2 linked regions of the Homo sapiens genome follow. The protein of the gene in region 1 interacts with the protein of each later gene in a pairwise test. Each region holds a gene or a part of one and is shown on either strand. Other genes may lie near its edges.

Evidence for each region. The genes of interacting proteins can lie anywhere in the genome.
Region 2: the proteins of MST1R (region 1) and PTPRR interact in a two-hybrid assay, tested with the Homo sapiens proteins (one study listed by BioGRID).

The regions. Positions count from the first base shown.
Region 1 is NC_000003.12:49,885,841-49,891,419, forward strand, and holds the end of MST1R (macrophage-stimulating protein receptor isoform 1 preproprotein), read right to left. Parts: coding exon 5,559-5,579; intron 5,467-5,558; coding exon 5,357-5,466; intron 4,811-5,356; coding exon 4,645-4,810; intron 4,221-4,644; coding exon 4,084-4,220; intron 3,976-4,083; exon of another isoform or gene 3,881-3,975; intron 1,723-3,880; coding exon 1,467-1,722; 3' UTR 1,162-1,466; downstream 1-1,161. UniProt on the Homo sapiens protein: Receptor tyrosine kinase that transduces signals from the extracellular matrix into the cytoplasm by binding to MST1 ligand. Regulates many physiological processes including cell survival, migration and differentiation.
Region 2 is NC_000012.12:70,889,739-70,894,277, forward strand, and holds part of PTPRR (receptor-type tyrosine-protein phosphatase R isoform 1 precursor), read right to left. Parts: intron 3,240-4,539; coding exon 2,941-3,239; intron 1-2,940. UniProt on the Homo sapiens protein: Sequesters mitogen-activated protein kinases (MAPKs) such as MAPK1, MAPK3 and MAPK14 in the cytoplasm in an inactive form.

The DNA of each region.
Region 1 (5,579 bases):
GAGATGGAGTCTCACTCTGTCGCCCATGCTAGAGTGCAGTAACCCGATCTCGGCTCACTGCAACCTCCGCCTCCCAAGTTCAAGCGAGTCTCCCACCTCAGCCTCCTGAGTACCTGGGATTGCAGGCGTGCACCACCACACACAGCTTAATTTTTGTAATTTTAGTAGAGACAGGGTTTCACCATCTTGGTCAGGCTGGTCTCAAACTGCTGACCTCAAGTGATCCGCCTGCCTCAGCCTCCCAAAGTGCTGGGATTACAGGCATGAGCCACCGCACCTGGCCAGAAGTTGGCTCCTTGAAAGTGTGGAGTTAGGCCGGGTGCGGTGGCTCACGCCTGTAATCCCAGCACTTTGGGAGGCCGAGGCGGGTGGATCATGAGGTCAGGAGATCGAGACCATCCTGGCTAACAAGGTGAAACCCCGTCTCTACTAAAAATACAAAAAATTAGCCGGGCGCGGTGGCGGGCGCCTGTAGTCCCAGCTACTCGGGAGGCTGAGGCAGGAGAATGGCGTGAACCCGGGAAGCGGAGCTTGCAGTGAGCCGAGATTGCGCCACTGCAGTCCGCAGTCCGGCCTGGGCGACAGAGCGAGACTCCGTCTCAAAAAAAAAAAAAGAAAGTGTGGAGTTGAGGCCTTGCTGCTGGCTTATCTCTCTTAAGGCTACAAGCGCAATCAATGCTGGCAGTGTTGCTGGGACCCAAGCCTCTATGCCCCAGATGGCAGGCCCCATTCCATCCTGGATGGTGTGACGGTGGGCACTGCAGATCGAGCAGGGAGCCCTGGAGAAGTGCTAGGGCTGGGGAAAGGGGAGGAGGCAGCCTGAGCCATGGAAGAAACCATCCTGGTCACTGCATGCTTGGGTACTCAGCCTACTTCCTTGGTTCCATCTAACAGTCCCCAGAGCCCTAGGACCTGGATCTGGGCCTTGCTCACCCTCCCTGTTCTCAAAATCCTTCTTGCTGATCCAACTCCTTTCCAGCCTCAGGGTCTTTGCATGTGTGACTCTCTGCCAAAAACCCTCTTTCCTCAACACTGTTTCTGGTGGTTTTTCCCCGGTTGATAAGGCCTCAGCAAAATGTCACCTCCTGGGAGGCTTCCCTTGCCTCTCTATTCAGCTATTTATAGCAGCCTCCTGTCATTCTTTCACACTGTTTGCTACAATTTGTGCTTTAATAGTCATTTGTTCCTTTATTGGTTCAAGGGTCAGTGTTGGTGTGGTCACTGCTGAGTCCACTGTGCCCAGAAGACAGGGTCCACAGCAGGCACTCCATAAATACATGTTGCAGGACTGCCCTCACTGGCTCACTCTGTGGAGTGAGGGACCTAATGGGCCCCATTTACCTATTGCCTCTGAAAGTTAAAGGGCAGGAACAAGGTGGAGGGCCACTGCCCTCTGGCCTGGCATGGCCCAGAGGCAGCTTGGGGTTAGCTCAAGGCAGCTAAGCAGGTCCAGCCCAAGAACTAAGTCAAGTGGGCCGAGGAGGCTCTGAGAGTGGCCGGGGCCGGCGTACATTCCCTGGCATGGGTGAGAACTGCGGCTGTTCTGGACGCACATTCATCTCATGCGAGGTGCTGGGGCCCAAGTTCATGTAGGTTGCTGGCAGCTGCACATAATGGTCCCCAAGCAGTGCAGACACTATCTGCTCCACCTCCCCCACTAGTACTCTGAAGGTGGGTCGCACTGCTGGGTCTGCCTCCCAGCATTGCTGCATCACTTGGTACCTGTTGGGGGAAAGGGATGTCAGGTTAAGGCAATTTCCACCCAAGGATTCTGGGCCACCCACTTGCTGTTAAACCTCTGGCAGGCCACACAGGGATGAGGATAGATGACAGGACCTAGTACCTAGCACTACCCAATCAGGGGCAGCTCTTCTCATCCCTATGATTACTGTTCCAGTCCTGCCTTCCCACCCTGGCAGAGGTCGAACTACCTCAGGTGTTAAGAGCTTGGGCTCCTGTGCCCTGTGGCCTGGGCTATGTGATCTTGGATAAGTTCCTTAACTTCTCTGTGCCTCTGGGTCCTCCTCTGATCACAGAGAAGTAGGCATATAGGCTGATGCCTGTGAAGTGCTAGGCACAAGGCCCAGCTCACGAGGTACAATGGTCATCATCACAGTTCTTCCAGGAAGGAAGCCTGGGTCCAGCAAAGCAGGAATTAAAAATCCTGAAGTGGCCGGGGGCAGTGGCTCATGCCTGTAATCCCAGCACTTTGGGAGGCTGAGGTGGGCAGGTCACGAGGTCAGGAGTTCGAGACCAGCCTGGCCAACATAGTGAAACCCCATCTCTACTAAAAATACAAAAATTAACTGGGCAAAGCTGGGCGTGGTGGCTCACGCCTGTAATCCCAGCACTTTGGGAGGCCAAGGTGGGTGGATCACGAGGTCAGGAGATCGAGACCATCCTGGCTAACACAGTGAAACCCCGTCTCTACTAAAAACACAAAATATTAGCCGGGCGTCGTGGCAGGCGCCTGTAGTCCCAGCTACTCGGGAGGCTGAGGCAGGAGAATGGCGTGAACCCGGGAGGCGGAGCTTGCAGTGAGCCGAGATTGCACCACTGCACTCCAGCCTGGGCAACAGAGCGAGACTCCATCTCAAAAAAAAAAAAAAAAAATTACTGGGCGTGGTGGCACACGCCTGTAGTCCCAGTTACTCAGGAGGCTGAGGTAGGAGAATCACTTGAACCTGGGAGGCAGAGGTTGCAGTGAGCCAACATTGCGCCACCGCACTCCAGCCTGGGCATCAGAGTGAGACTCTGTCTCAAAAAAAAAAAAAAAAATTCTGAAGCAAGAGCATTTGGGGCAGCACCAGTGGCACCCTGGTCCTGAAGCAGAGGTTCCCCAGGTTTACCTGCTGGGTCCTAGTGCCTGCCCCATTATCTTGGGGATGTCATTCCTGCCTGAAATAATACTCTACCCTACACACAATATCTCATATAATTCTCAGACTCTCGGAAGGTGGTACTGTTGTCTCCACTTTACAGATGAGGAAATTGAGGCCCAGAGAGGAGAAGGGCTGGACTGCTGAAGTGGACCCTATGGTGTGCCACCCAGATACCCCTTTACTTTCCCAGTGGCTAGGAGTGTTGCCTGCTGATGGTTCTTGACTGAGGCTCTCTCTAGGAATTGCCCTAGGCAGAAGAGAACTGCCTCTGCCAAGCTCACATCCCCTCACCAGGGACAGCCTGTGACTAGTAACTGATTAATGCCTGGTACAAAGACCTGGCCTGTTGGTCTCAATTTCAGAAAACTGTGGTGGGTCATCCCAGTTCAAGCAGTCCCTGTGGGATGGGCTGCAGTTTCTGTGACATTTCTCCTGCCCAGTCCTTCTTCCCTTGCCCCCAACCTCTCAGTAAATCCCCGTACATAAATCTCCAGCTGAGTCTGTTTCCAGGAGCCCAATCTGGATATGGGTAGGCAGTGAATTAAAGAAGTGAATAGTAAGAGCAAACCCAAGGCAGGTAGGACTGTGAGGAAGGGCTACTCGCATCCTTCTTGGAGCACAGCCTGAGACAGGAGGCGTTAACTACTTTTACCTATGTCCTGGTTCTCTCTGTTCTAACCCAGCAGACCTAGCCACAGCTCAGGCACACCTGCTACGTATGAAGCTGAACCTCAGCACCGAACCCACCCCGTAGGCACTGAGGACAATGCAGCTGCCGCCATCCCTCCAGGAATGGGGAATCTGAAACCACATACAGTGAAAAAACCTGACCTGGAGATCCAGAGGGGGTTGCTGTGGGGGTTATGGAATCTTTCCTCGAGATTAAATGAGAGGAAAAGGTGGAAAGCAGACCCCGTTAGTGGGAGTCGGGTAGGAGGAGCACTGGGAAAATCAAACCACGGGCCTCAACCCCAACTCTGAGCTCAGAATGCTGTTACCATGGCAACTGTGAGGTCCTCCCAGGGTCCTACTCTGCATGAGGGTGGGACCAGTTCACAGATGAGGAAATTGAGGCCCAGCGAGAGTCCCTTTCCTAGTCAACCAGAAGTTCAGTCAGGAAGCCAGGCAGGAGCTCTGTCTCCTGTCTCTTCCATGTCTCTGGGGCCCAGTTCCCTCCCCACTACCACCTCCACATACTCACAGAGAATCAGGGCAATACTCAGGCTGGGGCAGGCGCCGACCCTGGGCCAGGAAGTGGGTAAGGTCAAAAGGGTCAATGTGGCGGTATGGTGGGGCACCCCGTGTCAGCAGTTCCCACAGCAGCACACCAAATGACCACTGTGGAAAGGGGGAGGTGAGGGGACTCAACTCACCCCAAATTTGGGGGCAGGTGGGTCCCCCAGGGCTTCTACCTCCCAGAGTCCTTCAGCTGGAAATGGAAGACCCTACCCTCCACTGAGAGCTCATTCCTCAATACATCACCTGTGTCTTTCCTCTGTCTCCTCCCACTACCTCATCCTACCCAGAGTTGGGGCTGGGCAGGCCCTGGATTATCTGTGAGGAGCCAGTGAGTTCCCAGCCTCCTCTAGCCCTGGCAGGTGTCAGATTCCATCTTACATCTGCCCAAGAGGTGAGCAGATGGGCTGTGGGGGTCATCTACCCTGGGGACTCCCTGGGCTCAGATCATTCAGAGCTGAATGGGTGAGGCCCAGTGTTCTTGGGTGCCAAAGCCATGTGGACTGTAGGGCAGGTGGGGCCTCACCACATCAGACTTGGTGGTAAATCTATAGGTCTGCAGGCTCTCCAGCGCCATCCACTTCACAGGTAGGCGAGCGTGGCGATGCTGTTGAACACTATAGTACTCCCTGTCCAGGATGTCGCGGGCCAAACCAAAGTCAGCCACCTTGACTGTGAATGACTCGTCCAGCCTTAGGGGTAGGGAGAGGATCACACTTAGGACTGGCCCTTACCAGGCCCTGAACCCACCTGTTCTAGGCCCTTACAGAATTTTTTTTTTTTTTGAGACGGAGTCTCGCTCTGTCACCCAGGCTGGAGTGCAGTGGCGCGATCTCCGCTCACTGCAAGCTCTGCCTCCTGGGGTCACGCCATTCTCCCGCCTCAGCCTCCTGAGTAGCTGGGACTACAGGGGCCCGCCACCACGCCTGGCTAATCTTTTTGTATTTTTAGTAGAGACGGGGTTTCACCGTGTTAGCCAGGATGGTCTCGATCTCCTGACCTCATGATCCGCCTTCCTCAGCCTCCCAAAGTGCTGGGATTACAGACGTGAGCCACCGCGCCTGGCCAAATTTCAAAGCCACAGTGTCCAGTCCAAGTCTGCACTGGGCAGACAAAAAAAGTAAGGTGCAGAGAGGGGAGGACAAGGCTGGAGTGGGCCCTTCCCTGAGGCGGCCTTGAGCACCGCACACCCTCATGCCCTGTCCTTTTGCTTCACCCCAGCTACTCTGGACTCTCACATGCAGTTCCGCGCAGCCAGGTCCCTGTGCACAAACTTCTGCTCTGCCAGGTACTCCATGCCGCGGGCTACCTGCAGGCCAAAGCTGATGAGGTCCTTCACGGTGGGGTTCTGGGGGCACAGGTGGGTTGGTGGGCAAGGGCACAGCAGCTCCTTCTCCAGCTGCTGCCCAGCCCCCAACCCAGAGCCAGATGAACACTGACCCGCTGAGGTGAGCGGATGAA
Region 2 (4,539 bases), on another chromosome or scaffold:
TTTTCCCTTCTTTCCTTGCCTCCTTTCCTTCTCCTGCTGCTCTTCTTCCTGTTTCTTCTCCTCCATCTTCTCCTTTCCTTTATTTTTCTTACCCATGAGTCCATCTCACAGAGTAAATCATAATCTTCCCATTTCCATGCCGTTTCACTGATGTCAAAAACCACCCCTTATATTCCCAAGCCTTACTAATCCTCAGTTTGCTCAGATTTCTGTCCAGGCTAGAACATTCTTCACTCAGCAGCCTATGCTGAACTGAAATGGCCTGTAGTTGCTACCATTCCACCATTTTCACTTGCACCTCTGGGTTCCCTCCTTCCTGGTGTTGTGGCCTTGTGTCTTGACAAATATCCTGAGGATCCAGTGACAAGAGCTATGGATTTTACAGCATACTTTCATCTAAAGCGGTATTTTTTTCCTCTTACCATAGTACTGACCTTGAGGCATTCAATATCTTCTCTACATTGTACTTGCACAGAAATCCTAATAACAGCTTCTTAATTGAGTTCCGGAACATAGTTAGCATTATTTGGGATAAACATTCTAATTGTGTTGTACTCTCCTTGTAACAAATAAACTATAAATTTTCCTGATTACTAATAAAAAGAAGAAAGAGGGAAAAAATTCATTTGTGGATAAATGCTCTTATGAAATGCTTTGCGGTGGCAATTGGGAATCAGGAAGGGAGGAGAGACACAACTTTCATGCCCTTTTTAAAGGTAGCATTCTAAAACTCATTGCCAATGATAGTTGAAACAAGAAAGAAAAAAGTATTGGAGGAAAAATGCTTGATCCTTCCTTCTGAGCTAGGAAGTCTTAGAAGTTACATATAAAGTTTAGAGGTTGAGTGTAGCTTTTTACCCTGGCTGGAAAAAAAATGCCTATAATTTCTCCAGTTCAAGACACTGATAGTCAGAACATGGTCTATTTGAGTATAAATTAAGTCTCAAAATAATTCTTAGTACCACTGCAATATCCCTCAAACAAGAAGGTCTGCATTGATGTATATGTTTTATACTCATGTACATATGATAAGCACAAACACACATCAATTATTCCATTAAAGTCATTATGCTGCCCCAGAATATATCCCTTGCTTCCTGTATGCCCCATCCATACATCCATTTTCTGTATGGAATGGGTCTTCAAATCAGCTGACATTTAATTGCATCACCCCTTTGCTTTTTGAGGAAGCTAAACATTATTGATTTATTTAAAAAATAACCCTGCCTCCCCAGTTTTGCTGCTAAATCATCATGCACATAAGTAATCTAAGTGGATTGCAGGAAACATTAGGACTGGCAATTGGTGTTGCCAGCTACCAAAGCCACAGCATGGTCAGAGGCTAGGGAAAGCTAATGCAGCAAAATTGCCTATTGCCTCTATGTAATCATCACCCCAAAGGAAAAGCACAGCTTCTTCATCAATCTCCAAACCACAAATAAGCTGAAAGTGAAATGACCTGCCAGAATTCCTCATTGGTGCCTTTTATTGTCCATGATATTAAATTAACTAGACAGTACATGACATTACAAGATAGAACAAGCCTCTTGAACTGTAATTCACAGTGACTTTAAGAGTTGATGACTATGGGTATATGATGGTCACTAAGGAAATATCTCCCATGAGCCCTAGCATTAACAGGAGCATCTCCAGATACAGAGACATCATTAACATCATTTATCTTCACTGAATAGACAGAGTACATGACTTTCACCTTCAGAACATCTGCTACTCATGTAAATGCAGAAAACTTGTTCAAGTATTTCAGGATGCCAAGTGACCCACATATTTTCTCTTAACAAGAGTTCATCTTGTGTTCTTAGCTTATGATTTTTATTGAATTATTGATATTTCCCTCTGGACATTTTCCAAGCAAAACAAGAGACTGTATTTCATTTGTCTCTGTTTCCAGATATCCCAAGGGGAAACTAGATCATAATAAATACTGAGTGTATGCTAGCTGAAAACATTGACGAATGGAACTTTGATTCTCAATATTAAGTAAAGTATACTATATGTAGTAGGTTAAAAAAATAAAGAAAAAAAAGAAGCTTGTTAGATTTAATTACATTTGGTGCATAGAGGAGTTGCCAAAATGCAAACATGGTTTCATTGAATTATCTTGGCCACACAAATCAACTCATTTGATTATATTTTGGAGCAGAGATGCAATAACAACCATTTAACTACTGATTTGTAGTTTCAATGTGGATCCTTCTATAATGATGTTAAACCAGAGAGTGACTGTAGTTCAAATAGGGTGTCAACCTCAGTATGTATTTAAACTATGATAACCTCCACAATTTGGAAACCTCTGACCTGGGTTATACAAGCAAGGGAACTTTAAGAACATAAGCAATGGGATCATTGTATCACTTTTATTAATAAAGAATGGTTATTATTCAGTAATATCAAAAATGTTATCTATCAATTACTCCCAACTCATTTTATTTGCTCCAGTGACAGAAAACTACTCTCCCTCTACCACACCTCCCCTTTCAGTTGTCTTATTTATTGTAATTTGAGTCAAGTGACCAGAGGATCTTCAATAAGTATTATTTATTTACACAGGCTGAGACTAAGGCCTATCTGCTTAAAACAGATTCTCACAGAAGGTAGGAGGCTCAGTACAAGATATAATCAACTATAATTGTAAGGCCTTCCTAAAGTAATCTTTTATTCAAATATTTATTAAGCATCTACCATGTACCATGCATTCTGCTATGAGCGGAGGATACAGACAAGTTTTCTGATTTCGTAAGAGGAAGAAAACAGACAACAGTCAAGTAAGAAATTAGAAGTACCACAGAATAAGTGCTGTGGTACATACCCGTTGGGATTCATTGATAACTATTCACAATCAGTGTTTTTCTTTTTTCAAGCATCAATGACAGGAAAGAATCAACATCAGCCTCAGCATCAGTTTAACATACTACTTACCACCACAATTACATTTGCTGCTGGGATTGGGAGATTTTCCACTTCAAGATCTTGACCATCCATGGCCAGCAGATTGAGAGACGGGTCATATGCGGGTCTAGGAAATGCTGAATTGACAATCTGGTGGCGTTTGCTTACTTGAGCTTCGGAAGAGGAATGGTAGCTATGTCTGTAGATTTTTTGTGGGGCTATATCCAGGCTCTTCTCAATGTCTTGTGAATGCTTATAAATGAATACCGGCTTCCCACTCTTCTTCTGATTAATTGCCAAAAAATGATCATTGTTTCCTGAAAAGCACCCTGAAAGAGGGAAGAAGCAGAAACAATATCAAAGACCCTATTCAGTAAGAGAGGTAGATATATCTGATGAAGAGGATTACCCTTTCTTGAGAGGCTTTAAGACTTGTGAAGGATTTAGGTTAGTCTCCATATTTCTTTGTCTGCTTCATGATCCTCAACAAATAGTATACACCTGGTGGTATGAAGGCCTCTCAAAGACTTTAGGTGGATAAAAGTGGGCGTACTTTGAAAAAGTTCTATTTTTCAGATATTCTGATGCCACTTTTACTAAGAAATTTCCTCCTTTATCTACACCCATAGTTTCAATACCTACTTGGGCTTCTATTCCTGGATGTCCTATCTGCTGCTGAAATTATAAATATTTTTATCATATTTAAGCTTTCCTTAAATATAAGCATTTCCTACAATTCTTATTTCATACTTATTGCTTGTATTACAATGAACAGTTTTCTTCACGCTTACAGAGTATTTAAGCTCTCTGAGGTAAGAAATCTGAGTGTACTTATTGTGGTAGCAACTTTCAGTAGTCCAAACAATATCCATCGTCTCCTTACTTGTGTAAGTAATATGGCCATCTAGATAGAGACTACATTTCTCTCAGTCTTCCCTGCAACTAAGCATTGCCATTTGATCAAGTTATAGCTATTGGAATGTGAGTAAACAGATGTTAGCAGAGATGTGATATGGCCTTCCTTTCTACATTTCCTCTTTTGTGCTGGCTGAAATGCAGAGAGTCTGGTAGGAGCATGAGGTAGAAACCATGTGTCAAAGATGGTAGAGCACTAAGACAAAATATTCTGATCCCTGATGAAAGTGAAACTACCATACCAACCTCACAGTTCCCACTCTGATTTTTAGAGAGAAAAACAATATTCTATTGTTTTACCTGCTATTATTTTAAGTATCTTTGTTAGAGCAATTGAATTTATTTAGTAACAAATACATTCATCTTTATTTCTTCTGTTAGATAAATATTCATTGCATTGAATAATGGCTTCTCCTGTTTGCTACTGGCCACAGGAGGAAACAGATAATACATATGAATCAAAAAGAATATTACTAGGTCAAATACCAGTTAGAAAAGCAAACATGAGATCTGTTTTATAACATAGTCCCTAGCAATGGTACCCCAGATTTTCACTGGAAATGCTTGTGGTAACAAGTGCTGTCCTTAGAAAATTACTTACCTCTTTTTACAAGAATTCTTCTCCAATCTCCTACTATTTTTATCTTTTACTTCCCAAATCATGCAAGCGTCTGTACTTTATTTTGTTTTTCTTGCAAATTTCAGCTATTTACA